Linked DNA regions of Homo sapiens: regions 1, 2, 3, 4 and 6 are each linked to region 5. The links come from fine-mapping of genetic effects on gene expression. A gene starts in region 5. Each other region holds a variant in brackets. All regions are shown on one strand. Distances are from middle to middle. Region 1 overlaps FYN (FYN proto-oncogene, Src family tyrosine kinase). Region 2 overlaps FYN (FYN proto-oncogene, Src family tyrosine kinase). Region 3 has its middle 31 kb from the start of LINC02527. Region 4 overlaps FAM229B (family with sequence similarity 229 member B). Region 5 holds the start of FYN (FYN proto-oncogene, Src family tyrosine kinase). Region 6 overlaps FYN (FYN proto-oncogene, Src family tyrosine kinase).

Evidence for each region. PIP is the estimated chance that this variant, and not a neighbour inherited with it, causes the effect.
Region 1: its variant is the best candidate, but not a certain one, in a credible set for the expression of FYN in whole blood (TOPMed, PIP 0.81).
Region 2: its variant is the best candidate, but not a certain one, in a credible set for the expression of FYN in whole blood (INTERVAL, PIP 0.77).
Region 3: its variant is the best candidate, but not a certain one, in a credible set for the expression of FYN in whole blood (TOPMed, PIP 0.85).
Region 4: its variant is the best candidate, but not a certain one, in a credible set for the expression of FYN in fibroblasts (GTEx, PIP 0.51).
Region 6: its variant is the best candidate, but not a certain one, in a credible set for the expression of FYN in whole blood (TOPMed, PIP 0.87).

Annotation. Positions count from the first base shown.
Region 1 is chr6:111,712,557-111,717,631 of GRCh38, forward strand. It overlaps FYN (FYN proto-oncogene, Src family tyrosine kinase), which reads right to left. Exons shown (of 14, transcript NM_002037.5): 5 at 1,791-1,887. Among named protein-coding and RNA genes, the nearest start is that of TRAF3IP2, 110 kb to the left of the region's middle. The variant T/C (reference allele first, on the strand shown) is at 2,814.
Region 2 is chr6:111,680,207-111,685,281 of GRCh38, forward strand. The region is part of intron 12 of FYN (FYN proto-oncogene, Src family tyrosine kinase); the gene reads right to left. Among named protein-coding and RNA genes, the nearest start is that of TRAF3IP2, 77 kb to the left of the region's middle. RefSeq lists an enhancer at 2,564-3,065. The variant T/C (reference allele first, on the strand shown) is at 2,339.
Region 3 is chr6:111,938,020-111,943,094 of GRCh38, forward strand. No RefSeq gene overlaps it. Among named protein-coding and RNA genes, the nearest start is that of LINC02527, 31 kb to the left of the region's middle. The variant G/A (reference allele first, on the strand shown) is at 2,163.
Region 4 is chr6:112,095,091-112,100,165 of GRCh38, forward strand. FAM229B (family with sequence similarity 229 member B) reads left to right here. Exons shown (of 4, transcript NM_001033564.3): 2 at 1,951-2,111; 3 at 4,180-4,318. The coding sequence starts at 4,194. Among named protein-coding and RNA genes, the nearest start is that of FAM229B, 10 kb to the left of the region's middle. The variant CAG/C (reference allele first, on the strand shown) is at 2,570.
Region 5 is chr6:111,870,344-111,875,418 of GRCh38, forward strand. FYN (FYN proto-oncogene, Src family tyrosine kinase) reads right to left here and starts at 3,109. Exons shown (of 14, transcript NM_002037.5): 1 at 2,625-3,109. LOC102724646 (a long non-coding RNA gene) reads left to right here and starts at 3,109. Exons shown (of 3, transcript NR_168402.1): 1 at 3,109-3,347. RefSeq lists silencers at 2,229-2,628, 2,779-3,028, 3,149-3,238 and an enhancer at 2,681-3,180.
Region 6 is chr6:111,692,901-111,697,975 of GRCh38, forward strand. It overlaps FYN (FYN proto-oncogene, Src family tyrosine kinase), which reads right to left. Exons shown (of 14, transcript NM_002037.5): 10 at 3,377-3,556; 11 at 1,728-1,804; 12 at 1,475-1,628. It overlaps LOC105377945 (a long non-coding RNA gene), which reads left to right. Exons shown (of 3, transcript XR_001743812.2): 3 at 1,177-1,475. Among named protein-coding and RNA genes, the nearest start is that of TRAF3IP2, 90 kb to the left of the region's middle. The variant C/T (reference allele first, on the strand shown) is at 1,988.

The DNA of each region.
Region 1 (5,075 bases), 160 kb before region 5:
CCACCTGCCAGCTCTGTGCTCTGGGGCAGTTTCCTAATCTGGGCCTCTGGCTCCTCAGATATCAAACGATGACGTCGATGCATACCTCAGACAGTAGTGGAAGAATGCATGAGAATGTTTGTAACTTAGCTCATGGCTGGTACATCAGGAGCCTTCAATGAATGGTAGCTGTTTATTATTTTTTAAAAACTTCCTGTGGCTACAGGAGGAGGACTCCTGGGGGGCAGGTAACACTCTTCTTGACCTGGCTGGTGGCCACACAGGCATGTTCAGCTTGTGAAAATTCAGCAAACTGTATACTTTTTGAAAATTGTGGTAAAATATAGGCAACATAAAATTTATCATTTTAATCATTTTTAAGTGTACAGTTGAGCGGCAGTAAGTACGTTCACACTGTTGTGCAACATCACTGTGTACACTTTTGATACGTGCACTTTTCTGCATGTGTTCCAACAAAAAGTTAAAAAAACACCACCCCACACCTTTGTTAATGATGACAATCCTAATATATGTTTGAAAACCCTGTGGCTATGTAGACTGTGCCTTCTGATGTCTCGAAGAGAGTCGTTGGCCCTTTATGGCAGTATTCAGTTCTTGCTGTTGAAAGGCGGCATATTCTCACTGCATGGTTCTGTGAGCCAGGGGGCATTCAAGAAAAGGGTGGGCTTTCCAAGGAGGCAGTTTTCAGGCCTGAAGGAGGTCCCTGTGGCAATCAGCACTCCTCTTTCCTGGGATGTGCAGTGTGACCAGGGCTGCCTCTTACTCCCTCTGGCATATCCTTCTGGGAAAGCTGAGGAGCCTGGCTCCAAGTCCTTCTGCCAACATGGAATCTGATTTGCTCAGAGAGCAGAGGAGAAGCAACCAGACTTGGTGGCATAGAAGAACTTCCTGGTGTGCCCCTCAGCCCCTGGGTGGCATTCTTTCCCAACCACCGGGAGCACTCATAGGGACGCTGGAGATGCCTGGCTTGCTGATGTGGAACCCCACCCCCCCACACTTTCTTCAGAACCTAGATTTTTTTCTGAAGGGCCTCATCCACATACACTGCCTCAATCTAATAGAGGCAGTATTTATAAACCCTAAGAAAATCTGACCCGTGTTTACTCTTCTTATGGAGGTACTGAATGTAGGATTTGAAAAGTGAGTGATCCTCACTCTTGAAATCTCCCCACTGCTTGTTTAACTGTTGTTCCTCCTGGCCAACATTAAACAACCATGCAGCATATTCATTCAAGAGTGGGTAAAATCACTTCTTCTAGCTCCAAAAGATTCCAGTCACTCCCAAATTTTTGTTATAGGGAAACGCCTCCACAGGCTTCACCAAAGAAATGTTTAGCAGTTTATAAAATAAAGAACTTGTTGCAAGCCTCAAGTGAGGGCTTAGCTAGTGTAACATCTGAAATGTGAAGAAAATCTCAAGGCAGAGAGCACGAAACGTGGGTAGCCAAGGCTTGTGCCAATCACTTGAAACTGTAGGTTTGTAGAAACACTCAGGGCTGTGGAGAGCGATGCTGGTGATTTTACAACCTTTAAACCTAAACCAAAACCAATAAACATGGACTGTGCTAGTATTTTTGGTACTCTCCAAAAATCTCCTTGGACACACAGTGCCATAAAATACTGCACTGTGTCACTGACTCTTCTTTTTCTCAAAGTATATTGTTGTAAACCAGTGAATTTAGCAAATGTTCTTTTAGCATTTCAGACATCTGAAGAGATGCAGACCAGAAATGCAAGACCCCTTCCCAACCTGAAAGGTATACATGCTTCTCCTCCCTCTCCAAACTTACGAGCTGTTCAATATTTGAAATTTTTCTCCTTTGTGAAAACTCAGGTCATCTTCTGTCCGTGCTTCATAGTCATAAAGGGCCACAAAGAGTGTCACTCCTGCCGAAACGAAATTCACAAGAAGGGAGATTATTACACAAGGGGAAATTAATTCCAAGAAATTAAATCTTCACTAAAATCTCATTCTCACAATCTACATCTAGCCAGCACTAATAACATGATGAAGTGTTGTAATTAACGTGTCAAAACCACAGTCACAGGGCTGTGTTTATGCCTTGGTCTTTGTAGGGGAAGCCTTACTGTATCTGAAAGAAACCTAGACCTGAAGGGCTTCTTTCTGTAATAGCTTTTAATGAGGGCTGAGGAGCAGGGAAATATTAAAATTGCATCCCAAACAAAAGGGCAGCGTCAGCGTCAGGGTTCAGGTTTGCAGGGCTCTGCAGCAGTTACTGACATCCTTTGCTGGTCGTATCTTCTCCTCCACTTGGAGCCTATGTTAGTTTCTGGGTAAAATGCACCACCCTTTCTCCTGGTAAAACAGTAACATAGAACGTAATAGGAAATGCCTCCTGCAGCTTGGGGAAATTTAGAGAAGACCGTTTCTGTAATATTCACCCCAATTAGAGGATGTACTGCCCTTGGCATCTGCAGTTCATTTTGCAGTTTTGTGCTGCTCGCCCCACTGCTGAAAATGGAACCCTCTCCCTTGTCCTCCCCCTACCTTGAACTCACCTCTCCTCACACTGTCTTGTAGCACTCACTCTTCCTCACACCCACCCTATGTCCTCTCATCTGGCTCTCTAGAGAGGCCCTTCCTGGTTTACAGAAGTTTGCTAGCAGCAGCAGAGAATATCCAGTGTCATTTGGCCTAGGATTTCCTCCATATAATTAGGCATAATTCTTTTTTTTTTTTCAAATAGAGACGGGGGTCTCACTATGTTGCCCAGGCTGGTCTCGAATTCCTGGGTGCAAGTGATCCCCCTGGCTTGGCCTCCCAAAGTGCTGGGATTATAGGTGTGACCTAC[T/C]GTGCCCAACCCAACAGGCATAATTCTAGCATAGTCCCCAGTGACTCCTGCCTCCTAGTATTCAGTCTCGTGCAAGCCCCTCCCCTTGAGTGTGGGCTGGATCTAACGACTTGCTTCTACTCAACAGAATGTGCAGTCCCTTAAGTGACTAGGCTTCAAAAGATGGTGACTTCCGTCTTTCTAGCAGACTCTCTCTATTGCCACTTCAGCTTGTGTACTTTGATGAAGCAAGGCGCCATGCTGGTGAGGCCCATGTGACCAAGAACTGAGGGTGGCCTCTGGCCAACAGCCAGCGAGGCACCGAATCCTGCCAGCACTACATGAGTTTGGAAGCAGATCATTCTCAGCTAAACTGTGAGATGACTATAGCCCAGCCAACGTACCTTGATTACAGCCTGTGAGAGATTCTGAAGGACCGAACTGACCATTCGCAGATTCCTGACCCACAGAAACTGTAAATTTAGGTTTTATAATTTTAATTGATGTATGGACACACATAAACAAAAAAGCATGAAGGAAGATTTGGATCCAAGCGGTGCCACACTTTATGTCATCACTACAAGTGTTCAAGTGTAAAGAAAACCAGTTTTGAAACTATGAAATTCCTGATTCATAAATACACAGTTATTTCTATTTTAGTACATATAAGATAATACACTGTTATTAAAGCTCTTTTATTAAGGCAATTGCATATGTCTTAAAAGCAATGGTAAATTAAGTTGCCTTCCAAAACTGTGTACTTGTCTGGTCAGCTGTGTATGATCAGTTATCTACCTCAGAGTCTATTTTCTTTTGTGCTGGGACAGGTTGCTGGCCCTCCCTGTTTCCACAGCCCAAATCCTCCTAGCTCAGAAGCTAGGGCTAAGCAGTTATTTCTTTTGAGTATTTTTTAGTTCTTACATTTTATGCTTGTATTTGATGATAAATGTCAGTGACATTTCATAGTTTCCAAAGTCCTGGCTGCTCTGAGAAGTGTAGATTCTAGTGAAAATTACATAGTCATAAGATAAATTTGTTTTTGTTTTATTTTTTAAAAGTCACGGTATCACTGGTTCTATGCTCCCTGGAATATTACTGCTTTGTGAAAGCCCAGGCTGAACGCAGCACCCTCTGTGTACCTAGTACAGTTATAAACCTGGGTCTCCCACTAGTTGATACTTCTGCATTAGTTAAGGCAGAAATTTGATAGTTTGGTTAGAGGGGAGGGGAAATCTGTTGCCAGAAATGTCTAACTAAGTGCCATACTCGTCTGGGTAAGATTTGGGAAACATAACCTCTGTATATTAAAAAAAAAATTAGTTAAACATCATATAGTAGATAGCCATTAAATTATAAAAAAAATTATGAAGAAAGATCTTTTGTACCCGATTGAAAAAAAGAGATATAGAGATATCTATATGATCAAGAGAGTTAATTTTTTTTTTTTTTTTTTGAGATGGAGTTTCACTCTTGTCGCCCAGGCTGGAGTGCAGTGGCATAATCTCAGCTCACTGCAACCTCCGCCTCCCGGGTTCAAGTGATTCTCCTGCCTCAGCCTCCCGAGTAGCTGAGATTACAGGTGCCTGCCACCATGCCCAGCTAATTTTTTGTATTTTTAGTAGAGACGGGGTTTCACCATGTTGGGCAGGCTGGTCTTGAACTCCTGACATCGTGATCTGCCTGCCTCAGCCTCCCAAAGTGCTGGGATTACAGGTGTAAGCCACTGCGCCTGGCCGAGATTTAATTTTTTATTTTTGTTTTACTAGTGCCACAGACTTGCCAGTGGTAACTTATTTACCCCATTCAAGATAACTCTGTAGTTTTCTTTCCTAGGACTTGTTGTTAAACGTCAAAAGACATTTTTGAGCTGTATGTTTGATCAGACTGTTAGCTTTTCTGTTTTATTTCTTTTAAGAACCTCTGAATAAAAAACATCTGAAATTGAAAAAAAAAAGAAATTAAATGTGTTTTGTTTTAAGCTGCTAAGTTTTGTGGCAATTTGTTATACAGCAGTTGATAACTAATAGTAGTTCCCTGCAGTCTGCCTTTTCATTCTGGTCTCTCTGCACTTCAGAGTGCCTGCTATGACCTACAGAAATGACAGGGAGCCCACTTTTTTTTTTTTCTTTTGAGATGGAGATTCACTCTTGTTGCCCAAGCTGGAGTGCAATGGCGTGATCTCGGCTCACTGCAGCCTCCGCCTCCCGGGTTTAAGCACTTCTCCTGCCTCAGCCTCCCGAGTAGCTGGGATTACAGGCGCCCACCACCACGCCTGGCTAATTT
Region 2 (5,075 bases), 190 kb before region 5:
TTCTTCCTACCACAAGTATTTCTGGAGTATTCCCCAGTGCCTGGCACTGCACTCGGTGCCAGGAGGACGAAAGGGAACACAGTCTCTGGCAGTCATGGAGCTGGAAGCTTAGTTTGAGGGAGATAAAATAAATGAATGGCTATTATATATGTCAACTACAATAAAGTGCTATGAAGAATAATAAGATGGGGTACAAGGACAGATTTTGTGGGACTCTGTAACCTGTACTAGGATTTTGGATTCCATCCTAAGCGCAACAGAAAGTCACTGGGCTGTGAGCAGAAGTGCGATGACTTCCCACGTCGTTCTTTCCCCTTGTCTTTTAAAACATGGAAGATAACACATCATTACCTTGAGAATGACTTATGATGAGACAGAATGGGAAAAGTGTTTTGACTTTTCAAAACTCTTCAAAAGCATCGTGACATTTCAAGGCCCATGGGTGTCTATCAGCAATTAGCAATTGGGTAGATGATGCTTCCATTGTCACTTCTGTCATGTTTACTTAACGAGTGGCTCTGGGTACATTTGTACTATTTTAGCACACTTCTCACATGTGAATAATACCAATAATTTCGGTAACAAAGCAGTAAAACTTAGCATATTCCAACCCGCAAAGCTCAAACATTTCTATGAGAAATGCATGAATTATTTTTCTGAGTTTATTCTTCCCCATGTCCTTCCTTTCTTTCCAAGCATTTTGTGTGTCTCCCCTGTGGGCTCTTCTTCTTGCTTGGGCTTACTCAAGCAAGTTTCCTGCCTCTCCTGAGTAGCTAGGATGCTAGATGTGCACCACCATGCCTGGCTAATGTTTAATTTAATTTAATTTTTTTTTTTTTTTGAGACAGTCTCACTCTGTTGCCCAGGCTGGAGTGCAGTGGTGCAATCTTGACTTACTGCAACCTCCACCTCATGGGTACAAGCAATTCTCCTGTCTCAGCCTCCTGAGTAGCTGGGACTATTGGTGCACGCCACCATGCCTGGCTAATTTTTGTATTTTTAGTAGAGGCGGTGTTTCACCATATTGGTCAGGCTGCTCTTGAACTCCTGACCTCAGGTGATCCACCCACCTCGGCCTCCCAAAGTGCTGCAATTACAGGCATGAGCCACTGCACCTAGTTTAATTTTATGTTTTGTAGAGATGGGATCTTGCTATGTTGCCCAGGCTAGTCTCGAATTCCTGGGCTCAAGTGGTCCTCCTGCCTTGGTCTCCCAAAGTGCTGGGACTACAGATGTGAGCCACCGTGCCTGACCTAACTTGGTTCTTGCTACCCCAAACACAGTTAATCTAGTTCAGTTTGCTTTACTATAACCTGTGTCCTGCACTTAGCATGCTCACACTTGTTTCTTTTACATTGGCTTTGGAAATGCTCTCTTTCTCTTCACCTGCTTAGCTACAGCCTCCTCAGCTCCAGTCCCACCTCCTTCATGAAGCCATCTGTGATTACTCCAGCCTTCACTAATCTCTCCAATGCACCTAGCGCCAGTGCTAGAAACAACAGTTTAATGCTTGATAATAGCAGCTACCACAATAGCTAAACATACACTGAGCGCTTGCTAAGAGTCAGGCATGCAAAGCACTGGGCACATGAGGTGGATGCCAGCAATAGTCTTGTTCTACAGATGAGAAAACGGAACACCGAGAGGAAAGCAATGTGCCAAACAAAGGACAAGTGTAGATGACAGAACTGGGATTTGAACCGAAGGTGCCAGAGCCTGACTGCATAAACACTATACACTGTTCCACTGTGTCCATGTCTCCTCTGTGTCCTTTTACTAGTTCTTTCATAAGTTATTTAAAAAATCTCCTTAAATAGAATGCAAATCCTTTGAGGTTGGAGACACATATTTCTTCATAGCAACTTGCCTAAGGCTGGTTAAACAGCAATAAATGCTCTAACTAGCTAAAGGGTCCAGCCAGGCAGTAAGTTATCTGACACCCTGACGGTCAAAGTAATTCTCTTCCTTTACACAGACTTAATCAAACTAAACGCAAAGAGTGTCAATACAGTGGTGTAATAAACTAATAATTTTCTTCACTCTTAAAAGTTATAGGAATAAAATCTTCCTTTCATACGACAGCACAGCCTGACTGATGCTCTCGGTTTTTCAGTGCCAACAGGATGACTGCCCAAAGTCATCATGTCAGGATGGCCCATCCCAAGCCCCAGGCCACATTCCAGTTAATGAAGTCCCTCTATCCCTAGTGGCCAGGTAATCTGTTTTTCACTTCTGCCTCAAATAGAAATAGCTTACTTGACTCAGTTACTTCCTGTTCTTTATGTGTTTTCATACATTAAGATGATGGCATGGGCATTTCAAATGCTCCAATGAAGAC[T/C]GCAGATACTTTTGCTGCCAAATCACCTCCTGCAGTAAGAGTACATAAGCCGGCCAGGAAACGAGGAGTGGATGCTCTTCAGTGACAATGCAAAGTGGTCCGATTGTGGGCTGAGCTGGGATTGAGTGGTCACTTGTGGAAGGACCACTATGATCATTTAGGAAAGGAGCTTCCGAGTCAGGTATCCCTGTGCTTGCACACTGGATTTGCTGGTTGATCATTTAAAACATCCCTAAGTCTCAGTTTCCTTGTCTGTAAACTGGGGATGATAACCTCCTAAGGTTGTGGTGGGAAGAACAGTTGATGTAAAAGGCTCAGCACAGCGTCTGGTACCTGGTAATAGCTGAATAAATACCAGCTGTTATTTTATTCAGATAGTAAAGGCCTAAAGTCCCTGAGTTGCACTGGCAAATGCCATCAGCAATGCCAAAGCTCTCCAAACATCAGAAGAGGAAAAGAAGATGAAAAAACCCTCCTAATCAAAACACTCATCAACCAATCACTGAGAATCTTCTGAGGGTCCATGATGTCCCCAGCACCCTGTGAGGCGCTCCTGGGAAAACCAAGCACAGGTTGCCTCCGCCCTTGGGGTTTCTAGGCAGCCAGGGAGACAGACTTCACGGGCAAACCCAACAGAGAACTAAATGGTGGCACTGCCTTTAGGAAGAAGAGGGCTCAGCAGAGACAGGAAAAGAGAACATAAGCAGGAGATGAGGGCTTCAGGGAGAGGCAGCCGCATTGGAATGATGCAGCATGACCCATGGCTCTCCTTGCGGTGGGGAGGGTCACGGCAGGGGCCAGGACAGGCCTGGGTGGGCCCAGCTCACATCTCCGGAGAGCTGAACTGCCAAGTCTCTCTCTTTTTTATTTTTCTTGGTGACCAGGCCAATTCCATAGTCTCAGAGAATATCCCCTCTGGCTAAAAAACTAGGCCAAGGTGGAGAAGGTGAAGTCAGTATTGAATAAAAGAAGCCAAATCCTTCCTACAGAGAATCTGAGCTGTGCCCTAATAGCATTTTCAAGGAGGAAACCCATTAACTTCAACAATAGACACTGTTTTTCTGAACCAAAGAGCCACCCAGAGCCCTTTTTAATTATAAAGCCACTAACTCTGCAAATTATTATATCCAATATTTAATAGTATGCAATAATTCAACTTGAAAGTTACTCTGGGTAATAAAACAAAAAAAAAAAATCACAAACAATGCCAATAACAGAAATTTGGTTTACAGGAGGGGGAGGTGACAAGGCGGTACCAGGACAGGATATCCTGTGAAAGAAGCAAAATCAAAGCTGACCTGACCTGGAACTTTGTGGTTATTTAAACAAAACAATGATTTCAAACCCAATGAAACTTGGCAAAGCAAAACTCAGAATTTTCACACTAGGCCAAAGGAATGACTTTCAGATTTCCCAAATGCTTCTGAAGTAATACAACTGGGTGTTTTCCAGTTATCCCCGGTGACGCACTCTGTTGAAACTTCTACTTCAAGTTCATAAAGTTTTAGCATCATGTTTTTTTGAAAAGTATATGTTACAATGGGTTAAGATTATATTCCATCTGAAATTTCATAATGTTGAGCAAGAAGTTTGAGAAGGAGGGAGGTTGGGAGGAAGGAGGAATGCTGTCCCACCGGGGATGTGAGTGGAGAAGGGACAAGTTAGGCCAAGGAGGACAAGAACCAAGGAGTGGAAGGTGGGCCCGAACATATTGCAAAGATAAGGTTGATTAAGTAGGCACAGATCCAAAGTCTGGTTGAGTGGAATCCATGGAAGGAATATTCAGGCTGAGAGGGGTGAGGAAAGTTCCAAGAGAGCCCAGAGTTCAAGACTGGACAGAGAAGAGACAGAAGGTCCATCAGTGGGTATTAAAAATTGAACCCAGGACAACTAGAGGACACAGGGGAGTAGGCTCAGCTACCAGGGAGAATGCAGGGGCAAGGCTGGACTCTAGGTATTAATCCTGGGGTTTTGCAGTCGGGGAAGGATAGGCAGGATAAATTGTGGAAGGGCATTCGATCCAGACATGGAGGCTACCAGAAGGTAAACTGTGACATTCCTTCCAAATATCCCTAGAGGAGCCAGGAAGTGAAGGGAGGAAACTCTGGGCTGCTTGCCTTTCTCCATCACCCTCCTTGCAACGGTGACCAATGACAAACCCAGGGTAACTTATGGGGGCAACACAAAAGTAGAGGATAACATTAATGGGCATCTCCTGAAACTGTGGGTATTTAGTCCTTTTAAGAAGGAAATCTGAGAACCATCGAAGGGACTTTCCTTGGAGTACAGACTGTGTTATGGAGGCTTATTTAAGTGGTTATCTTGGGTGGGACTGAAGAAAAAAGGAGCCCTGCTTGCTGTTCTAGAATACTGAGGCTCTGAATAATTCCAATTATCCTTCCAGTTTCCGAAGAGCCAGAAAGGAAGTAATATCAGAATAAAAATTCTGTAACTTGATTACCTCTGTAAAGAGAAAACAAAACAAAACAAAACAAACAGAATAAAAATTCTGATTCACAGCTTCAACAGCATAAACGCTATGTTTGCGGACTTTCAATCCAGAACAAAAGACAAGAGCTTTGTAACCAACTGCACACTGCTGCCCAGGGTGGTGAGAGGAACTCACCTGAGTGATCAACGGATGTGTGGGATGTAGCTCAACACAGAAATGATGCCAAGAATCCAGCCACCCCCAGAAGGGGCAGAGGGCCCGTGTCAGTCTGACTTCATGCCACAT
Region 3 (5,075 bases), 68 kb after region 5:
GCTTTGCATATGCTATTTCCTTGGCTTAGATCATTGTACTTCACCTCCTCCTCTGTGCTTGGCTAATGCAACCCCAACCTTCTGTTTCTGTTAGATACTCCGTCGTCTGGGAAGATTTCCGTAATTTCCAAAAACTGTAGGGTACTATCAGAGAGCACTTATCACTCATGTTGTAATTCTATTTACTTGTGTTGTGTGTATTTTTTGAGGGCAGAAATCATTGTGGAGATAATTGTCTTTGTGGCTCAATATCCTAGCTCAGTGTGTAGCACATAGTTGCTGCCCTATTTATTTGCTGCATAGTTGAATAAACACTAAGCTCCAACCCTACTTTCTTTTTGGCAAATTAATGTCTTGTTTCTCCAGCTTATTTTCCAGCTTACCTTAGAATGATCACCTCATCACGCTCAGTCTTGTTTCCTGTAGGGTTCAGTTTAGCATCTTATTCTATATAATCTTATTCTCAAATTTCTGGGTTCATCTTGTTATTATTCTGAGTCCAAATGTAGGTAGACCAGGAATTCAACCCCTATTATGTTAGTTGTCTATTGCTATGTAATAAATTACCCCAAAATTTAGCAGCTTAAAACAACAATGAATGTTATCTCACACTGTTTCTATAGAGCAGGAATCCAGGAGCAGTTTAGCTGGGCTGGGTGGTTCTGGTTCAGGATCTCTCAGGAGGTTGCAGTCAGCATGTTGGCCAGGATTGCAGTCATCTGAAGGCTCGACTGGAGCTGGAAGAATCTGCTCCTAAGACGGTGCACTCACCTGGCTGTTGGCTAGAGGCCTCAGTTCCTTGCTGACAGCTGGCAGGAGGCCTCAGATTTCTACCACATGGAATTCTCCATAGGGTGTTGCAGGCGGCCTCACAACATGCAGCTGGATTCCCCCAGAGTGATCCAGAGAAAGAGTACGAGGGAAGCCACAGTGCCTTTTGTCTTCAAAGTCTCACACCATCAATTTAGCTTCTTTTGTTTGTTTAAAAATGAGTCACTGTTCTAAGTGCTTTGCTTGTATTACCTCATTTGATCCCCAAAAGAATCTGAGAGATCATCTCATATTCAGATGGTGAAACATTTCCCAAAGCTAGATTTATCTAAGGTCTCTCAAAAAAGGCATAGAACCAAAATTCTAATGTGTTTTTGGATTCATTACCCTTTTCACTATGAGTGAATGACATGCCTCAGAGAGTAGGTTATGAACTAGGAGAATTTGAGCACATAGTGTGTGTCTATTTATATGCACATAAATATAAATGTATGACAACTGTAATAGATGAAAATCATAGGCCATATACTTCTTAACATCTGTAAAAACACAGAAAAAAAAGGTAATAGGAAATTTCTTTTCAAGTCTACTTGGGAACTTGCTCAAATCCAATAGAAATTACCTTTATCTTTTCCATTTTATTTAGGCAACTGTGCCATCCACCTTATGTTTAAGTTTGAGGGCTTCTTTGCCCTTCCATTGAAACATTTATTTTATTAAACACATATAGTGTTTAATTTATTTTATTAAAACATCTATTTTATTAAAACATTTATTTTATTAAACACATATAGTACTATTCTGCTTTCATTAAGTTTATTAGCTTCTTATTAAATACTTTAATCCTCATAACAGTCCTAGGAGAAGGCACCAGTTCTTATTTTATTGATGAGGAGCAAAAAAGTTAAGTAACCTGCTAAGATTACATGGCTAGTGAGGGCAGAGTCAGGATTTGAACCCAGGCAGTCTGGCTTCTGTGCCCACTTCTTCACCTCCTCACCATGTCACCTCTCCCATCTGTGCAGGTCAAGAAGTCAAAGTCTGCAGCTCTGCAAGTGTATTGGATTTCTGGATAAAATAAGCCTGACATATTATTGACTTTCTTAGTGGAGAAAACCCTTCTCTCCCTTTACATTGGTGAATTCTTGTACTCTGCAATTAACGTGTGTGCCAGTTCTCAGTAAGCACTCAGCATTGCAGAATGAAGTGTGTTGTTCCAGGCAGAAGGCCCATCAGAGTCCTGGGCTTCCCATGGATGCAGGCTCTCTGATGTAGACGTTCATCCCTTTGCTCAGCCTCTGTCCCAGGCAGCCAGCCAGTGTCTTACACTTCTTCTCAGTAGTAATTATGAGGTAGCATCCTTAGAGGAAGTGGTGGAAGTCACTTTCAAT[G/A]GTGGTAATGGTCATCTTCCTCTTTCCTTTTCATCTCCTTGCTGCTCCTCATCTATTTGGCATTAAAAATAGTATTTACATTTAAAGAGGAGATATTATGACATTTGTGTCTATCTCTGCTTATTGGCTGCCTCAGCAAGAGGGGGACTGACCTTCCCGAGGTGCATACCAAGGTTAACATTCCTAGAGCTTCAGGCATTTTGGTCATTTAATGGACACTCTTCCCATTCATCAGGTCAACAGGATTCCTGTTAACATTAAACGTACCTCAGGTGGGGGAAAGAATGCTTCTGAGTAGATGACAGAAGGAAATCTCCCCTAATTCTTGTTAGACTAATAAATATTCCTTTTTCATACAGTGTTGAAACTTGGAGATCCTTAGAGATGACCAGAATGAGGCTCTCATGTGAAGGGTAAGGAAACTGGTGTTCAAAGAGGTTGAAGGACTTGGTCAAAGAACATAAACGGTGGTCCTCCAGATTCACTGTCTACCCTCCACTCTGCTCTCAGCCCAGGAAACTGATCCATCAAGGCTGTATCAATAGACACCCTCACTCCCTGGCTTGCCCAAAGGGAGCTCTGGCAGGAGATGAGAACAAAGAGCAGGATGAGGTTAGTTTTTTATTTCCTTGGCTCTCTCCCTGCAATGTTGCCTTGAATTGACTGTATCCCTCCACCAAAGGCACAGTTTCTTCTGAGGGGCCCACTAGACAGACTTTCCTCCTGGGTTCCAGTAACTGCTCCCTCCCCCATCCCTTTGGGTCTAGAGCTGGTGACTGCTTCACTGTTACTCACCCTGGATTTTTGCATGATCCCTTGTGATTCCCCTGTCCTTAGAGAAATCATGTAACTTATTATCCAAGCTGGGGCACCCTTGAGAATAAAGGTAGGGTTATTAATTATTACACCAGGATAATAGGTAGAAACCACCCTGTCCTGTGCAACTGGGACTGATGGTCACCCTACCCACACCCACTCACATCTTTGTAAACAGTCCCCTTGTAAATAAACTCTCCTGGAATTCGTCTGATTTGGGTGTGCCATTGATTCCCTGTTGAACCTTGATGAAAGCACAGCTCTAAAATCTACCTCTTATCGTTTTCAAACCCATTCTTTTTCCATCATTTGATTTAGAAACTAGTAGTCATTTGCATAACTACTAGTATAAAATGAAACAATATTGTTATTGACATGTGGTATTTTCCAAAGTGTGACACAAAACATAATTTTAGGTTATATGCTGATCAATATCTATTATGTTAAGTTATATGTCATTAGGGTGTGTTAGAAAAAAATAGAATGGCACACAACACCCATGATTTCATGTATGGTACATCTTTGCTTAGGACAAAGGCAAAGCAGAAATTAATTTTATTAAGTAAGTTGATTTGAAGAAAGATATTGAGTCTACAGTAAAGTAGATTGTATTGAAATGGTTTTAAAGTACTCACAGTGTCTGGGAAGCACACTACTAGAGTTACTTAACCCTGGGATACTATGCTTAGAGGTCACAGTGGTTCTTCTTTCTAGTGTGCCAGCCTCCCCTGTGATCTCATTATTAGTCTTTTTTTAAAAAAAATATTTTTATTGTAGCAAAATATACATAATATAAAATTTACCTTTTTAACTATTTTCAAGTGTACAATTCAGTAGCATTAGGCACTTTCACATTGTTGTGCAACCATCACCACTATCCATTTCCAGGACTTGATTTCATCACCCCAAATGGAAATAACTAAGCAGTTACTGCCCATCGCCTCCTCCCCTACATCTGGGTAATCACCACTCTACTTTGTCTCTCTATCAATTTGACTCCTGTAAGTACCTCATATTGTACCTCATTTAAGTGTAATCATGCCTTATTTGTACTTTTGTAATTGGTTTATTTCACCTAGCGTAATATGTTCAAGGTTCATCCATGTTCTAGCATGTATCACAATTTTACTCCTCTTTAAGGCTGAATAATATTCCATTGTATGGATATACCACACCTTGTTTATCCATTCTTCTGTTGATGGACATTTGGCTTGTTTCCACCTTTTGGCTATTGTGAACAATGCTGCTATGAATGTGGGTGTACAAATATATGTTCAAGTCCCTGCATCCAATTCTTTTCATATATATCCAGAAGTGGAATTGCTGGATCCCATGGTAATTCCATGTGCAATTTTTTTTGAGGAACCATCATCCTGTTTTCTACAGCAGCTGCATCATTTTACCTTTTATTAGCCTTTGCGAGTTGAGATTGGTTATGTGGTGGCTACTGAAGAGTGTAGCTAGGACTGTGCAAACCCATCACTAAGGGAAGGTAATTGAAAATACAGTCACTGACAGTGGGTCAGAAGCGTCTCTCCTAACAAGGGGTAGTACATTCCAGAGTAAAAAAGACACTTGCATGAGGGTGTATGTGTGTGTGTGTTTTTATTGTTACCCGGGCTTAGGCAATATTTTGAGATATTATATCTGCTTGTGATTTACTTTCTCATTTCCTTATATACAACATGTTACTTTCATCTTCTCCCAAGAGTTCCTTTGAACTACATGTATTTTCTGTATTTTTGTTCTCATTTCATCATTTTCACACACACCCAAATTTCTCAAACATAATTTTCACTTCCGTTTCTTAAGCCAAATGCCTTGCTTGCAAATACTCTGCTGTTTATCCACCAACTTAAACTCCTGAGGGCAGGCAGGGCTTCTGCCTCTTTAGGACTGGGACTGATCTGCCTTGTTCCAGTGCTCAGCACAGCCTGGGCACATACAGTATGGATGTACACAAAAGAATCAGTCTTTGATTTCTTGCATGAATGGCTGACACAAAGTAGGACCACAAAATAGGTCTGTTAAATAAAAGAACAGCTCACCCAATACCTTTAGCTCAATAAATGGAGAGATGATCAGATGCTACTGATA
Region 4 (5,075 bases), 220 kb after region 5:
GATATTTTACTTCATATATATCCATGACTAAAAGGTGAAATCAGTGTCTCAATACTCTGATTTCAAGAATGACACAAAAATATGTAGGAAGTAGTGCTGATTGAATTCTTGTGTCCCAGTTATTGGCTTTATACATGTTAGATTGTTTTTAATTCCTCACGACAACTCTGTAAGGTAGGAATTAATACCATTTTACAGACAAACTTTTAGTGATTTGCTTAAAATCTCAGAGCTAACATTGTGTCAAAATTCAAACCTGGCTGGGCACAGTGGGCTCATGCCTGTAACCTTAGCACTTTGGGAGGGTGAGGTGGGTGGATCACTTGAGCCCAGGAATTTGAGACTAGCCTGAGCAGCATGGTAAAACCCTCTATCTACAAAAAAATACAAAATTAGCTGGGCATAGTGGTGTGCACCTGTAGTCCCAGCTACTTGAGATGCTGAGGCAGGAGGATTGCTTGATTCCAGGAGGTCGAGGCTGCATGCAGTCAGCCATGATCATGCCACTGCACTCCAGCCTGGATGACAGAGCAAGACCCTGTCTCAAAAAAAAAAAAAAAAAAAAAAAAACCAAAAAAAAAAAAAAAGAAAAAAAAAAACCTCTAACCTAATTCTGATGCTAAAACCCATCATTCTCCCCACTGCTACCACCTCTCAAACATGTAAACTATTACATTTTTTGCCATCCTAAGGACCAAATGTTTAGGTCCTAATGATACCTTAGCTCACAATGGCCAGCAATTATTTGTTTGTGTGACTGTGACACCGTCAGTTATTTTTCCAAGCTGAAATGGTGATCAACTTATTCACAGATAGTACCCTAGTAAGAAAAAGAAGGTGGAGGTAAGATTGTATCCAACATCAAGTTAATTCTTATGTAAAATGCCAGTTTTCTATAACTTGAGTCATATGAAAACACAACAGTGGTAAAAATGCTCACTAACATTTAATAGTTTAGTCATCGGATATGAAAATTGAAAAACTGCTTAGCTGAAGAGTTATGTTCTGGTATAAGGGTTAAACTAAACATTACTGAGTAGAGGAGAAGTTCATGAGGTGGGCTATTGATCTAGAAGCCAAGAATGAGTTGGGAGAGGGAGAGCAGTTAGAGAAATGAGCAGAGAAGCAGCCCAGGGCTCAGGGAACAGAATAATGAGGACAGTACAAGATGTATTCTTCCTTTCGGCCGGGCGCGGTGGCTCACGCCTGTAATCCCAGCACTTTGGGAGGCCGAGGCGGGCGGATCACGAGGTCAGGAGATCGAGACCATCCTGGCTAACACGGTGAAACCCCATCTCTACTAAAAATAGAAAAAATTAGCCGGGTGTGGTGGCGGGTGCCTGTAGTCCCAGCTACTTGGGAGGCTGAGGCAGGAGAGTGGTGTGAACAGGTGAGGCAGAGCTTGCAGTGAGCCAAGATAGCACCACTGCACTCCAGCCTGGGTGACAGAGCGAGACTCTGTCTCAACAACAACAACAAAAAAGATGTATTCTTCCTTTCACAATTGTAATTATTCCAGCCATTTGGGAATTTGAAGACTCTCTTGAGGAAACAGGAAAAAAAAATAAAGTTAGTCCAGGCATTAGAGAGAGGGTGTAAAGAATCCCATGTAAGAGTTATAGAGAAATTTGTAAAGGTACAATTTGGGTTTGAGGATATTGGAGTGAGATGAGGATGTAGACAGATGGGATTTATTTGGGATGTTATAAGAGAAGGTCTGGGAGAGAAAGGGAATGAGGAAAACAGGATATAAAATGAGAAGAATCTCAATTCTGATTTACTACAGGTGGATTAGACTGTAGGTCCCCACTCATGGATGAAAATACTAATATTGTAGGGAAATAAGCCAGTAAAAACAAGAATGAAACTCTCCAAAAAGCTTTAGAGAAAATTTTTAGCTAAGCCTCAGCTTGTTGTTGGAGCTATGCATTGAGATGTTTGATTCTTTAGCAGGTAGGAAACTATGTGAAAGAATCTCCTGATGTCATAATTTCCGGGTGTCACCGGAACATTTGATCATCATTCCTTTGGCAATTCCAGCCTTCTGTGGAAAGGCCAGTAGAAAGCATTGATTTATTCACCTCTACAGGAATCAGACTCAGCCTCTTTTGGTAAGTCTATTTATCCTTGATCAAATTAGCTAAATGTTAATACCTGCATAGATAGGTAGTTATACTAAACCACAGAGTTTATTATGGTTTCACTAAATCATCATTGAGCGAAACACTTTTTTCTTGATATTGAGACAGTCTATAAAAGTTATCATATTCAAATTTTTAAACCTTAATTTAGTTTTATTATTAACACCAATAAACATTCACTTTTAGGCATAGAATACTGTACTAGGCATAAGAAATAGTTGCACCATTTTAAATTTTTCCTACCCTTTGTGTACTAATAGTTGAATACATTGTATACTAATAGTTGAATACATTGTGTACTAATAGCTGAAAACATTGTGTACTAATAGCTGAAAACATTGTGTACTAATAGTTGAAAACATTGTGTACTAATAGTTGAAAACATTGTGTACTAATAGTTGAATACATTGTGTACTAATAGTTGAAAA[CAG/C]TGTGTACTAATAGTTGAAAACATTGTGTACTAATAGTTGAATACATTGTGTACTAATAGTTGAAAACATTGTGTACTAATAGTTGAATACATTGTGTACTAATAGTTGAATACATGCAAGTTATTTCAGGGTAGAGCTATTAAATGTCCACTGTGTGACAAGCACTGTTCTAGGTATTAAGTATTCAGGGATGACAAAGACAGACTTGGAATGAGGGGGGATATTAAACATTTACAAAAAATGAGGGTAGTGTTTCTCAACAGTGGGCAGTTTTGCCTCTCTCTCCCACCAGGGGACATTTGACAATGTCTATAGACATTTTGGGCTGTCACAATTTTGGGAGAGGGGTACTCTTTGCATCCAGTGGGTAAAGGCCTTGAATGCTGCGAAACATCCTACAGTGCACAGGACAGTATCCTCCCTCCCCAGCTAAGAACTATCTGATCCCAGCTGTGAATAGTGTCATGGTTGAGAAACCCTGAATTAGAAGGATAACTGTTACGAAGGAGAAATAAAGGTTGCTATGAAAACTTAGATAATGGGGGTTATAAAAGTAAGTTATAGAGTAAGTAAAATGTAAATTCAGACTTAATGGATTGCATTGGCCATAGCAAGTGAAGGGTGGGAGCAGGGGGTAGGGAAGTGTTCCAAGGTAGGCAGTAAGGAGTTCATTTATATGTGTTTGTGTGTGTATTTCATAATAAATTTCATATCTCAGGTATACTTGCAGACATTTATATATACTTACTAATGCTCAGTAGTACCTGCTAAATAATAATAGTTAACATTTACTGAGCACTTACTGTGTGTTAGGCACTGCACTTTACGTGTATTACCTTACTTAATCCTCACTATTATCCTAGAAGTAGAAAATATTATCACCAATGTACCCTTGAGAAATATAGATAAGTACCTTGACTGAAGATCACATAGTTGGGAAGGGCCAGAGCCAGGGACTATACTGTGACTATAGAGAAGCAGTGGGGAAATGAATAATCCCCTGGAACTGAAGGATTAGCTAAAGATATCTTGGTGAATGTGAAACTGTGCTCCAAAGGAAGAGAAGGGCATAGATAGGTAGAGAGGTGCTTGTTGATTGCAACAACCATTTAAAGGCATACAGAATTTTGTTTTCACACGGCAGAAATGGTCTTCAGTTATGTTAACCATAGAGTATTTTCCTTGCGTTGCTTGGTGGCTATTTTGTATTTTTTGCAAGACTTAAATTGTACATAAGGGATAGTTGTGAAATACAGTATTTTAAACACTATTTTTAGCTATTTAAAAATAGAATAACATTCAGAATGTTTCTGTATGTCTATAACAAAATAGTAATATTAAAAATTCCAAGGGCAGGCACGTTGTGTGCACCTGTAGTTCCAGTTACTCAGGAGGCTGAGGCAGGAGGATCACTTAAGCCCAGGGTTTCAAAATTGTAGTGCACTATGATTGCACTGGTGAATAACCATTGCACTCCAGCCTGGCCAACATAGTGAGACTCTGACTCTTTAAAACATTCCATGCAAGTCTTTGAAGACAATCTATCTCCACCCCCAATATTTTAATTTTCTAATCTAGGTTTTCAATATTTTAACTTTCCGATCTAGGTTTTCAGTGAAGTATGCCTTTTCAATTTGGAACCCAGCCAAGGAGGTTTCCAGTGGAAGGAGGAGATTCTTCAATTGAGCTGGAACCTGGGCTGAGCTCCAGTGCTGCCTGTAATGGGAAGGAGATGTCACCAACCAGGTAAAGTCTTCTGTCCTCACAAGTGAGGAGATATGTATTGGCTATCATCAATACAACCTTCAGCTGATATTCATTATTAGCAAGAAAAAACTCTCAGCAATTCAAAAACATTGTTGTTTCTAAGTTAGCGTATTAACAGAGCCCAGTTTTCCTTAGTGTAGAGTCTGTATTTTGTATTTCTGTAAGTCTTGATGATAGAGCAATTCATTCTCTGTCTTTCTGGTACATTTTTAGCTATTAACAACAACAACAAAAACACAATTACCTTTGCACCAACCTAATAGATTGTTTTGTTGATAGCTTCACGATTAGATAACATTCAATTAAACAAACAAAACTTCAGTGCTAGTATGCACAGGGCACTGTGCTAGGCATAAGGCTAAAAATATGAAAAAGACTTAGACCTCAGAGTTAATGTCACTTTGGCTTTGATTAGTATCACTTTGGCTTTGCTGCGACCTTTGGCAGAAAGAGTGATATAGAATCTGAAGATTCTGTGAGACAAAGTGTTTTTGCAGAATGATTAGTTCCATTTCTCTGATGTTTACCATAGCAAAACCTTAAATACTACATTGTTAGATTCTCATGGCTTGGAAATTTTGGGAACACAGATTTAAGTTTAACAGGTGTAGGTATTTAAAAATCGGAGTTAGTCAAGGATAAAATGGGCTGCTTTGGGAAGTAGTGAGCTCCCGATCTTTAGAAATGCTAAAGGCTGAATGACTATTTGGTGGGAATGTTGGAAAGGAAATTCATA
Region 5 (5,075 bases):
AAAGCCACCTACCGACCAGAAACATGAATTTTTGACTATTAAATGAGCAAGAATAAACGTCTATTGCTTTTGAGCCATTATATATTTGCAGGCCTATTTGTTACACCTGCTAACATTAGCCTAATTGATACAGGTGTTGAGCACATACCAAAGACCTAACTCACATTTGTTTAATGTTAAATGAAACAGAATACCCGCTAAGATAAAACTTGGTAGGAAACAAGATAAGTAAGATAAGGTTCCTTTTATCAATGTGCTGACCAATTAATGGTGGAAATAGACTCATGCGAAACATAATGCCTGCTGCCAAAGTTTGAAACCAAAACATGATGATTTGTTTGGAAAGGAGAAGATGGAAACGGCTTCACAGAGGAGATGACATTTGAGCTGGGCCCCAAAGGTTAAAAAGGACTTCGAGCAAGTCAGATGGGGTTGGAGATTCCAGACCCAGGAGAAAGCAGAGTGTGCATTTGCTCACATTCAACCTTATCATTAAGTCTCTTAAACTTGGTCAACAGAGTGTGAGTTTATGTGCTCTGGCTTTCCTTCCTGGGTCTGGCATCAAACAAACGACCCTTTGTTTTTACAGTACACTCATTAACCCTATTGCTTTTTTTATCGTAAAAAGTTCCACGATGAATGTTCTTAAAAAGTGTGTAAGTAAATATTTAATGAATCATAACTCTTTTCTAATAAAATTACTGAAGACTAAACCTACAGTTCTGTTACTTATAAAAATAGTCGAGGAGCCATACTTTTAGGAAAGAACAGGTTCAACTTAAGTTTTGACAATATCGATTAAGCATGTAATAGTCACTGGCTTACAAAACGGAACATTAAGCCCCCAGATTTACATTAACATTTCTTCCTTAAAGGGAACATCAAATGGTTTAGACTTCAGTCAAGATTCTCTACAGCCCCAGTTCATAGCCAAGTGGCCTCAAAGCCTCAGATAGTTAAACCACTTCCTCCAAAAGTCTGTGAGTCCCTTCATCTGAATACAGGGTACCCATGGAGCAGGGACTGGGGAAGAAGACAGTACATAGGGTGGAAAGTATTGCAGTTGCTTGGGTGGTGAGAAAGGAAGTAGGCGTCCCAAGACTACCTTGAAGCAGGCAAGAGGCAGTCTGCAGTGGTCTTCCAAATGCTAACTCTAGACCGTTTTATCCACGTCCCCAGGTATTTACTTCAATAAAAGGGTAAAACAACATCACTGGGCAGACAGGATTTCATTTCAAAAGACTTCAGTACAGTGCCCTCTTAGACTTGAGAGAAGAAGCCATTCAGGCTGCCTCCCTCTTATCAAATAACAATTTAATTCTGATTCAGAAACAAAATTCTTGTGACCCCCACACCAATCTACTCTACCCCAGCTCTTAGTACTTGTTCCCAAAAGGACAGGGGAAAGAACGAGGGGATGGGGAGGCTACCTTAAAAGTAAAGCAACTCTTAAGACTGCTGGGATAACTGTTCCCTTAAATCTAAGAAACACTGCAGCTGCCAGTCAACACTACCGGTCTCTGAACACAGCAAAATGCCGACACCTGCCACCCGGCATCCGGGGGTTCTTTTATTTTTTGGTAAATGTGGCAGGAAAGACTCAGAGAGATCAACTGCTTCATGGGAAAGAAAGGGAAGCCCCAGGGAAGAGAGACAAGAAGCATCGTGCCTATCCTAGGGTACTTTGTGTGTCTCCTCTCTATGCACTGAAAGGGCTCTTTGTGTCACACTCACACTCACACACCCGGCGAGTCTGTGTGATTTATTGGGGGAAGGAGGGGCAAGAAGGGTGATTTTATTATCCCTCTTCCCAGTGAGTCCCAGCACATCTCTGCTGGGCCCAAGCTCGGTGGCCTCCTTCTGGCCCAGTCCCCTCCGCCTGTGGCCGCAGAGATAACAGAGGGGAGGAGCCCAAACAAAAACAGCCATGGATCTAGGGAAGTAGAGAGGAAATCCAGCGAGGGAGCCGGAAAGGAAGGAGAAAAGAGCTGGAGGGAGCAGAGGGGTGGGGGACAGAGGAAGAGGAGGGAAGGCTCCAGCACAGGGGAAAGGGGAAGGGTGGGTGGGTGGTGGCACAGGAAGAGTGAAGGGGAGGATGGGGGAAGTGCAAGGGAGGTGCCAGAAATAGGCAGGAGGATGGGTTGGAGAAGGCGACCGCCGCCGAGGGAGGAGGCCGAGAGGTGGAGGAGTGGGGCAGGGGTTGGGTGGGGAGGGAAGCAGCACGGGGCATCAATTATTAAGTGATTACATCATCCCTGACATTAAAACAACACACACAGCCCCAGTCCCCGCGGGGGGCCCCAAAAGGAGGGCGGGGGCGGAGTCTGGGCCAGCCTCGCCCCCAAGCCAATTCCCATTTTCACCCGGCGCCCGCTTGCGGGCGAGGAAATGGGGTCCCCATCCCCGCGCTGCCTCGGGGCCGCACCCCGCAGGGGTGTCCTCCGGTGCAACCGCGGGAAGACCCCAAGCACCGACTCCCCGGCAGCCCCGCGGAGCGCCCTGGCGGCCAAGGGACCGCAGCACCGGGCCCTGCGGCGGGGGCGGCGTGCGCGGGGGCGCCGGCGGCCGGGCTTCTCCGCAGCATCCCCGAGGCCTCCCGCGACGCATCCCCGCCGCCTGCTTACCTGCGCGGCGCTGAGGCTCCGGAGCCCACTCACATGGTCCTCTCCCCGCCCTCCTCCGGCGCGGCCGAGGCGGCTCCGGGGGGTCCCCGGCGGGCCCGGGAGCCGGTGGGCCTTCCGAGAGCACCGAGGGGGCGGCGCCGGGGTGTCCCCGGCCCGGCGGCCGAATCCCTCCCTGGCGCGGGCGGCGGCCGCCGGGCGGTGCGGCGCGGGCGGCGGCTTTGTGTGCGCCCGGGCGGTCCTCGGTGCGCTGGGAGAAGCGCGGCGCGCCCGGGCGGGAGAGGACGCGCCGCTCGCACAACAACCTCGCCTCTACTCTCGCCGCCGGGCGGCGGGCGGGTCTCGAAGGCCTTCGGCTCGCGGCGACCCCTCCTCCTCGCCCGCGGCAGCCCCCTCCTCGCCGGCTCCGCTCCTGACAGATGGCGCAACTGCAACGACGCGCCGCCGCCACCAGCGCGGCTGCTCGCTGCTACTCTTGCTGATGCTCTGCCCCTCCAGCTCCGGAGGGGAGCGAGGAGGGGGCGGGGCGCGCCTCGAGAGTGACAGGCCCGGCTGCCCTATCAAAGAGCCCCTTGGGAGCTGCGAGCCGCAACCATTGGCGCCTGGGGCGTGGGCGGGACGGCAGTAGGTGGGGCCGCCGAGTGGGTTGAGCGTTACTGTGGCAGCGGGCATCCCAGGGTGCGTGCGGTGCAGGGTGTGCAAGAAAATGCGAGGTTGGAGGAGGAGGTCTGTGTGTTTTTAAGGATTGTGTGGAGTTGTGAGGTGGCGGAGTAGGGCGGGAGAAAGAGCGGAGAGTGTGAACTGCAGTTTCCGCTTTGCGGAAGGTTGCAGCTGCTGCTGCAGATTGGCACCTGCCATTCCCCCAAAACCATGGGAAACTGCCTCGAGACAGGGCTATCTTGCCTTTCTGGTGTCTTTTCATTTGAGGGTGAGAGGATGAAATGGAAAATTGGGCGGTGATAGCAGCGTTTTCTTTGATCAAACTGAAAAGAGTACGGAGCAAAGTAGAATCCTGTCCTGAAACGTGGAAACGCACAACAAATAACAATGAGGAGGAGAAGGAGATTAGGATCATTTTATCAGTCCCCTATTTCTGCGGACACTCATTTATATTTTTTTTCTAGCAAAAGTCTGGAGGAAGTATTACTGAAATAGGGGGAGGGGCCAAGCGGCGACTAAGGAACCTGAAATGACAGAGATTTGTTCGTACATTCCCCGCCCCACCCCCAAAAAACCTCGTTTAATTGTAGTCATTGGTTGTCTTTGGTTTCTCATAACATTCAAACTTCTCATGTTTTTTTCCCCTTCACTGAATCTGAGCTTTTGCTCATATTTCCCTTGATGAAATAATTGCCGGTTTAGTATACAGTTGGGAGTGCATCGGTCTTTATTTCCTATCCAGCTTTTCTATGGCAGGATGTAACTTCATAAAAAGAAACACTTTGGCTTCCTGATTTTCTTTATAGGTAATTCCTGTTTACTGAAAGTTCTGCTTTAAGGCATACTCAGAATCGCTCTCCTTAATGATTTTGGCAAGAACCCTACCTTCCCCCTCAGCAAATCTAATGTTCTAAGAAATTATAAGTGAATCAGCTTCTGCTTCTGTGCTCAAAATCTATAATATTGCCTTTCCGGCCCACTACTTGTTTTTACTGTAGTTTAAAAAAATCTGTCCCTTTTGCTGACTTTTTTCTTTTTGTACACACTACTTTTTAAGAAAAGTTGCTAACATTTATTAAATGATCTGCATCCTATGGAGGAGGAAACTGAGGAAAAGAAAAGTTAAGTAACTAACTCAAGGTGACAGTATACAGAGGTTACTGGATTTTTTTCCTTTTCCTTAAACAAAATGACAAATTAAACCATGTTTAAATTGTGTCTGGAAATTCCATAATCCCAAGAAATGGAACCATAGCTAGGACTAGGATATTTCCATACAAGAGAAAGCCAGCTTCATTTAGCCAAGAATTGCTTATCTCAAGAGCAGAGGCTCTTCGTCCTCAGGGCTAGTCCGCAATGGCTGCTCTGGGTTTATTTGGATTGGGATGCAGAGGCAGTTGGGTAGAGCAATGGTTCTCAAACTTTGACATGTATCAGAAATAACTGAAGGGGCTTGCTTAAACATGAATTGCTGTGTTTAACCACCTGAGGTTCTGATTTAGGGGGTTTGGGATGGTGCCCAAGAATTTGCACATTTAGCAAGTTCCCAGGTGATGTTGATACAGCCAATCTGGAGACAGCACCTTGAGGACCATAGTTCTAGAATTGGGCTGTCCGAGGAGGTAGCCACTAGCCACATGACTGTTAAGTACTTGAAATGTACTTCAGTATTGGAAATTTGGCTACTGCAAATTAGGATGTGCTGTAAATGTAAAAGATGTATTAGATATTTCAGATCAAGCATGAAAAATGGAATGTAAAGTATCCCATTTTAATATTGATTACATGTTAAAA
Region 6 (5,075 bases), 180 kb before region 5:
AAGCTGCAGTGCGCCTTTGATTAGAGATACAGCATGCCATCTGGCCCAGCACCGGGGGTGTATGTGTGTGTGTAACGCACGGGTATGCTTGCTGTGTGGGCATTTGGCTCCAGGACAAGAACTGCCACGTGTTGGGGAAATTCAAATAGCTGAGCTGTCTGACCGACATGTAATTCAGCATTTGGACAGTATCGGTAGCAGCCAGGGTCTTAGTTTAACATTTTTCCTCATCACTTGAGGCTGCTAAGAATGCTTCCATTCTCAGATCAAATGAAGGGAGAGGATAATTGGCATGAAATGAAAGAATCAAGAGGAGGAGGAACAGGGGCAAGAGAAGGAGAAGGAAAAAGAGAAAGAAAAGGACTCCAGAGCTGGCCATTATGAAATGCAGTAGAAAGCATCACCCTGTAATACATTCCAGTCACTGCTCCGCTTTGCTTGGGATGACTAGGCTTTGGTTAGAAACACCAACAATGAAAGTTCCCCCTTGCCCCAGCTATAAACATTATATTCTACATGAGGAGCCTATACTCGATTGCAAACCACATACTTAATCACACACTTTTACCTGGTGACCACTTTGTCAGTATCTGGGAAGAAGGAAAATATTCCTAAAAACTCCTTTCTAGTATCTGGTGCTCTAATAGCACCTGAAAAGCTGCCCCACTGGAATGGCTGCTGAGTTGGGATATATTTTACTTAAAGGCTAATTTCTATAAATTTTTGCAGAGGGTGGGATGGCGGGGATGATGAAAGGAGGTAGAGATTTTCGAGTAACTATGCTGTTACCATCTGTAGTGTAAGTCCACTCTCCACTCTCCCTCTCCCTGCTCTGGACCCATAAGGATTCATCGCTGAGCTCCTGTGACCTCTACTTCTGGTTGGGTCTGGCAGAAGACCCAGAAGTGGGCTAGAGTGGGGTTGGGTGTGAATCCCCAGATCCATCCCTGACGTCTCTCTTTACTGAGGAGGCCCTCTCTGTGCAGTGGCCCATTCTGACTTCTTGTGCCCACTTCTCTGCCCCCTTACCTTTGAGGCCTTAGTTCTGTTGCTGTTACAAGCTCTGAGACACTGCACCATGCCCTGTTGGCTTTCTGAAACCCTGCCTGTGCCTTTGTAAAAAACACAGGCATGTGAGAATGTGAGAATAAATGTGGTCTCTTTCTCCAAAAACAGAGTATTCTAGGCCTGGACGCTGTGAGGAGACCAGCATGAGCCAAGAGGACCACAGCAGCAAATACCAATACCCACCCACCCACCAAAAACCAATATCTCATCCCTCCACTGGGCCCACAACAGTCTCCCACCTGCAGAGCTGTCAAATTCCTGCCAGATCAAGGTGTCCAAACCAAGCTGAAGAATGACATTTCAAGTATTTTCTGAAGGAAGGGAAGGGAAGGAGGAAGGAAGGGCTGTGCAGTAAGTGACTGTTCTCACAGCTGTGATCACGAGCCATTGTCATTCAAGTGCCCACCTTGTCTTGCTGTGTACTCATTGTCTTCTATCAATCGGGCCAATCCGAAGTCAGCAATCTTGCATATGAGTCCATTCCCCACTAGAATGTTTGCTGATCGCAGATCTCTATGGATATAATTCATGCGCTCGATGTAAGCCATTCCTGCAGCCACCTGTGGAAACCCAGGGAACAGGACATGTTACACCACGACCCAATGTACTTAGACACGTCATTAAATCTATGGCACATCAAGTTACCCTGCAGGGCCTACCTGTGCTGCCATGTCCACAAGATTTGGTAATTTCAGAGCTCTTCCTTCTCCATCTTTTAAGAAATCCAGTAAACTTCCTATGAACAAAACATAAAATCATTTCAATTTACTTTGAAAGATAATTCCCAACAGAGAGCTGTATTTGGTTTTCTTATTAAAAGTAATAAGGTAGTCAAATGGAATAATGCCATCCACATGGGGGGACAAAAAGGTTTATATAAAAAAGCAGGGTAGAAAAAAGTATAGGCATGGAGAAGTAA[C/T]AGTTACCTTTTAAAAACAAACAGCATTAATTCCATTTCTAGGAATAACAACATATATTTGATAAAACTAGAAGAAATGGGACTCAATCTCCCTGTATGTCATAAAGAGGAACCTATGAAGAACTGCACCTCTTCAATCCCATTCCCCAATCACCCCTGCACAAAGAATTGATGTGGGGAAAATACAGCCCAGCTGAGTGGTCCAAAACTGTGGTCCTGGGACCAGCAGCTACAATAACACAAGGGAACTTGTTAGATATGCAAATTCTCAGGTCCCATCCCAGATCGAGTAAATCAGAAACTTTGAAGGTTGGGTCCAGAAACTTGGGTTTTAAGAAGGCCTACAGGTGATTCTAATAATACAAGGTAAAGTTTGAGACTCACTAGCTTAGCTTATTTACAGATTTTGAATCAAGAAAAGACAATCTGAAGAATATGGGTGGGGCAGATGGTTCCCCTTAATTAGATCACAGCCAGCCAAGCCTTAAATCAGACATCTGAAATGAAACATTGGAAGCTTCAGAGCCACTATTATAACACAGCCTAAGAAGGCTTAGAACTAACACCAAAGCAGGGATAATCATTTGCAGAAGCTGGAGGCTTATGATGGTCATCAGTGATATTTTATGCTTTAATCACAAAGTTATTTACAAAATAACCCTGGATACAAAGGACAAACCGTTTGCCAGAAAAAAAAATTCCCATTAAATTTTAAAAGAAAGTACATGGAAAAGAAAAATTACACTGGTATCCTCTGATAAACAATGTATTGCCTTTTAAGGCTGTTTCTTGTTTGGTTCATCTATTTTTCCAAAACAAAATGATCTCTGGCCTTATCCCTAACAATGCTGGTTTGATTAGGAAGACAGAGGGGTTGTAGGGGAGAGAATGTGAGAATAAATGTGGTCTCTGAAAGCATGTAATTTCATCGCCTGACGTTTAAGAAGAGAGCTGGAAATAAAAAAGATGTTGAAATGATGGAGACTAAACTTAGCTTAGAGACCAGTGTCTGATATTAATTGTTTAGCCCTGCAAAAAGGAAATGTAACAAAAGCTACTACATTCAAAATAACAGCAAACTATCATAACCCTCCGTACCACCCTGATATTAAAAATGAATGTTTTAATTATGGAGAGGAGCTTGAATTTCTGACACACATAACATGTAAAAAGTATTTGGCATTTCATAAGGATTTGGGGTGGGGTAAACGCAAGGTTAGTCTGTTTTAAAAAATGTTTTCATTAACGAGCACATAACTGGTGGTTCCTAATGGGAATACTTGACCCAGGCAGAAACTAGAAAAGTAGCAAGTAGGAAACTTCCATTTCTCTCCCCTAAACAACCCCTTAAGGCACTGTGAGCTGGAGACAGGAGAGGTGTTGCCCAACCTTTGTTCATATACTCGGTGACGATGTAGATGGGCTCCTCAGACACCACTGCATAGAGCTGGACCAGCTTGTCGTGCTTCAGCTTCTTCATGATCTGCGCTTCCTCAAGGAATGATTCGGGGGACATTGTGCCTGGTTTAAGAGTCTTTATGGCTACTTTTGTGTTTCCATTCCAGGTACCTACAAACATCCCAGAATATGAAGTCAAACCAAAGATCTTCTTTTGATGGAAAAAGGTTTTGACCACCAGCTATTTGCATAAGATTAGATTTTAAATTTAAAACACTTAATACAGTTTTTGTTGAACAAAGACATTCAATTGCAAGGACTCTGTCAAGTATTTTAACAGAAAAAATGAGTTTATTTGTGGTTATGGCTAAGATGGCTATATTAAGATTTATAACTCATTAAAATTTTTTTAAATTTTGATATATTACCACTCTCTCTTTTTTTGGCTCAGTCATATGATTACACATTTATACCAAAAGCTCTGCACCATACAGTGATGAAAGTCCAGGGGTTGGAACAGGCCTGGCCATCTAATAGCTGTCCCTTAGGGAGTACAGTGTGCATGGAAGAAATTAGATTATTTAAGTTTATGGGGTGTGCCATTTAAAAATATGGCACCACATGAGGATGTCTGGAAATTACCTCTAGACTTTCAATGTCTGCAATGGACAAGTTACTTGACTGAGTCCTTGCACAGGTGTGCCAAGCATGCTGATAAGCACTGGCAAGGAGCTCACAGTCTGCTTGCCAATACTTCAACAAGGTAAGGCAAATTTCCTCAGCTTTACTGATGGCTAGCCACAAGAACAATGGCTTCTGTCAGGTAGGTAGACAGGGGAAATTAAACAGCAGCTGAGAGGGAACAGAAATATTTAAATTTAGCATGTTAAAAAAAAATCTAGCAAATCTGAAGGCAAGGCCTGGATTATGATTGTCCTCAGTTACCTCATCTGTAAAATATAGGAATGGAACTGGATTATCTTTTGGGTCTCTTTCAGCCCCAGCATTCAAAAAACAAAACCATACCTAGGTTCTTTGTGTATTCCATTATTAGACCTATGATGCTTAAGAATAACTTTATAAAGGGGAAGAAATCTGCTAATTTAGATTATTTTCTATTTGAAAAAGAAGACTGGTTTAAATTAAGATTTTTATATTTAATATAACTGACTTTGGAATTTAAGGATTCTGTAAATTGGAGTTCTTATTATCCTGTTAAAGACATGGTTCATACAATTACAACATGCAACCTACAAAATATAAATTATGAAAAAACAAGTGGCTTAAAGAAAAGTTCATTTAAACTTCATAAAATATCTGCCCACTAAGCATTCATGGGAAATTTGACAATTTATAAGTGATCTTTGCTATTTAAGAGTCAGCACCCAAAATTCTAAATACATTAAGATCTTCCTCTGTAATACAAACTTCGTCAATTACACAGACATCCATCCCAATTCTGATGGGCATGTTGTCTTGTGTTTATTGGAAAACAAAATGTGAACAGTATATGTAATGATTTAAAGTTGATATTTGTAAAATTTGAAAATAAATTTTCTAATAGGGTCCAATTCTCTGTGATTGTGTGAGTAATTTGACTAAAATCCTCTATTATTAGAGGGTGAATGAGGAAGAAGGAGGTCATATATTTTACGATACTTGAGATTAAGTCCAGAGAGAGATGGACACA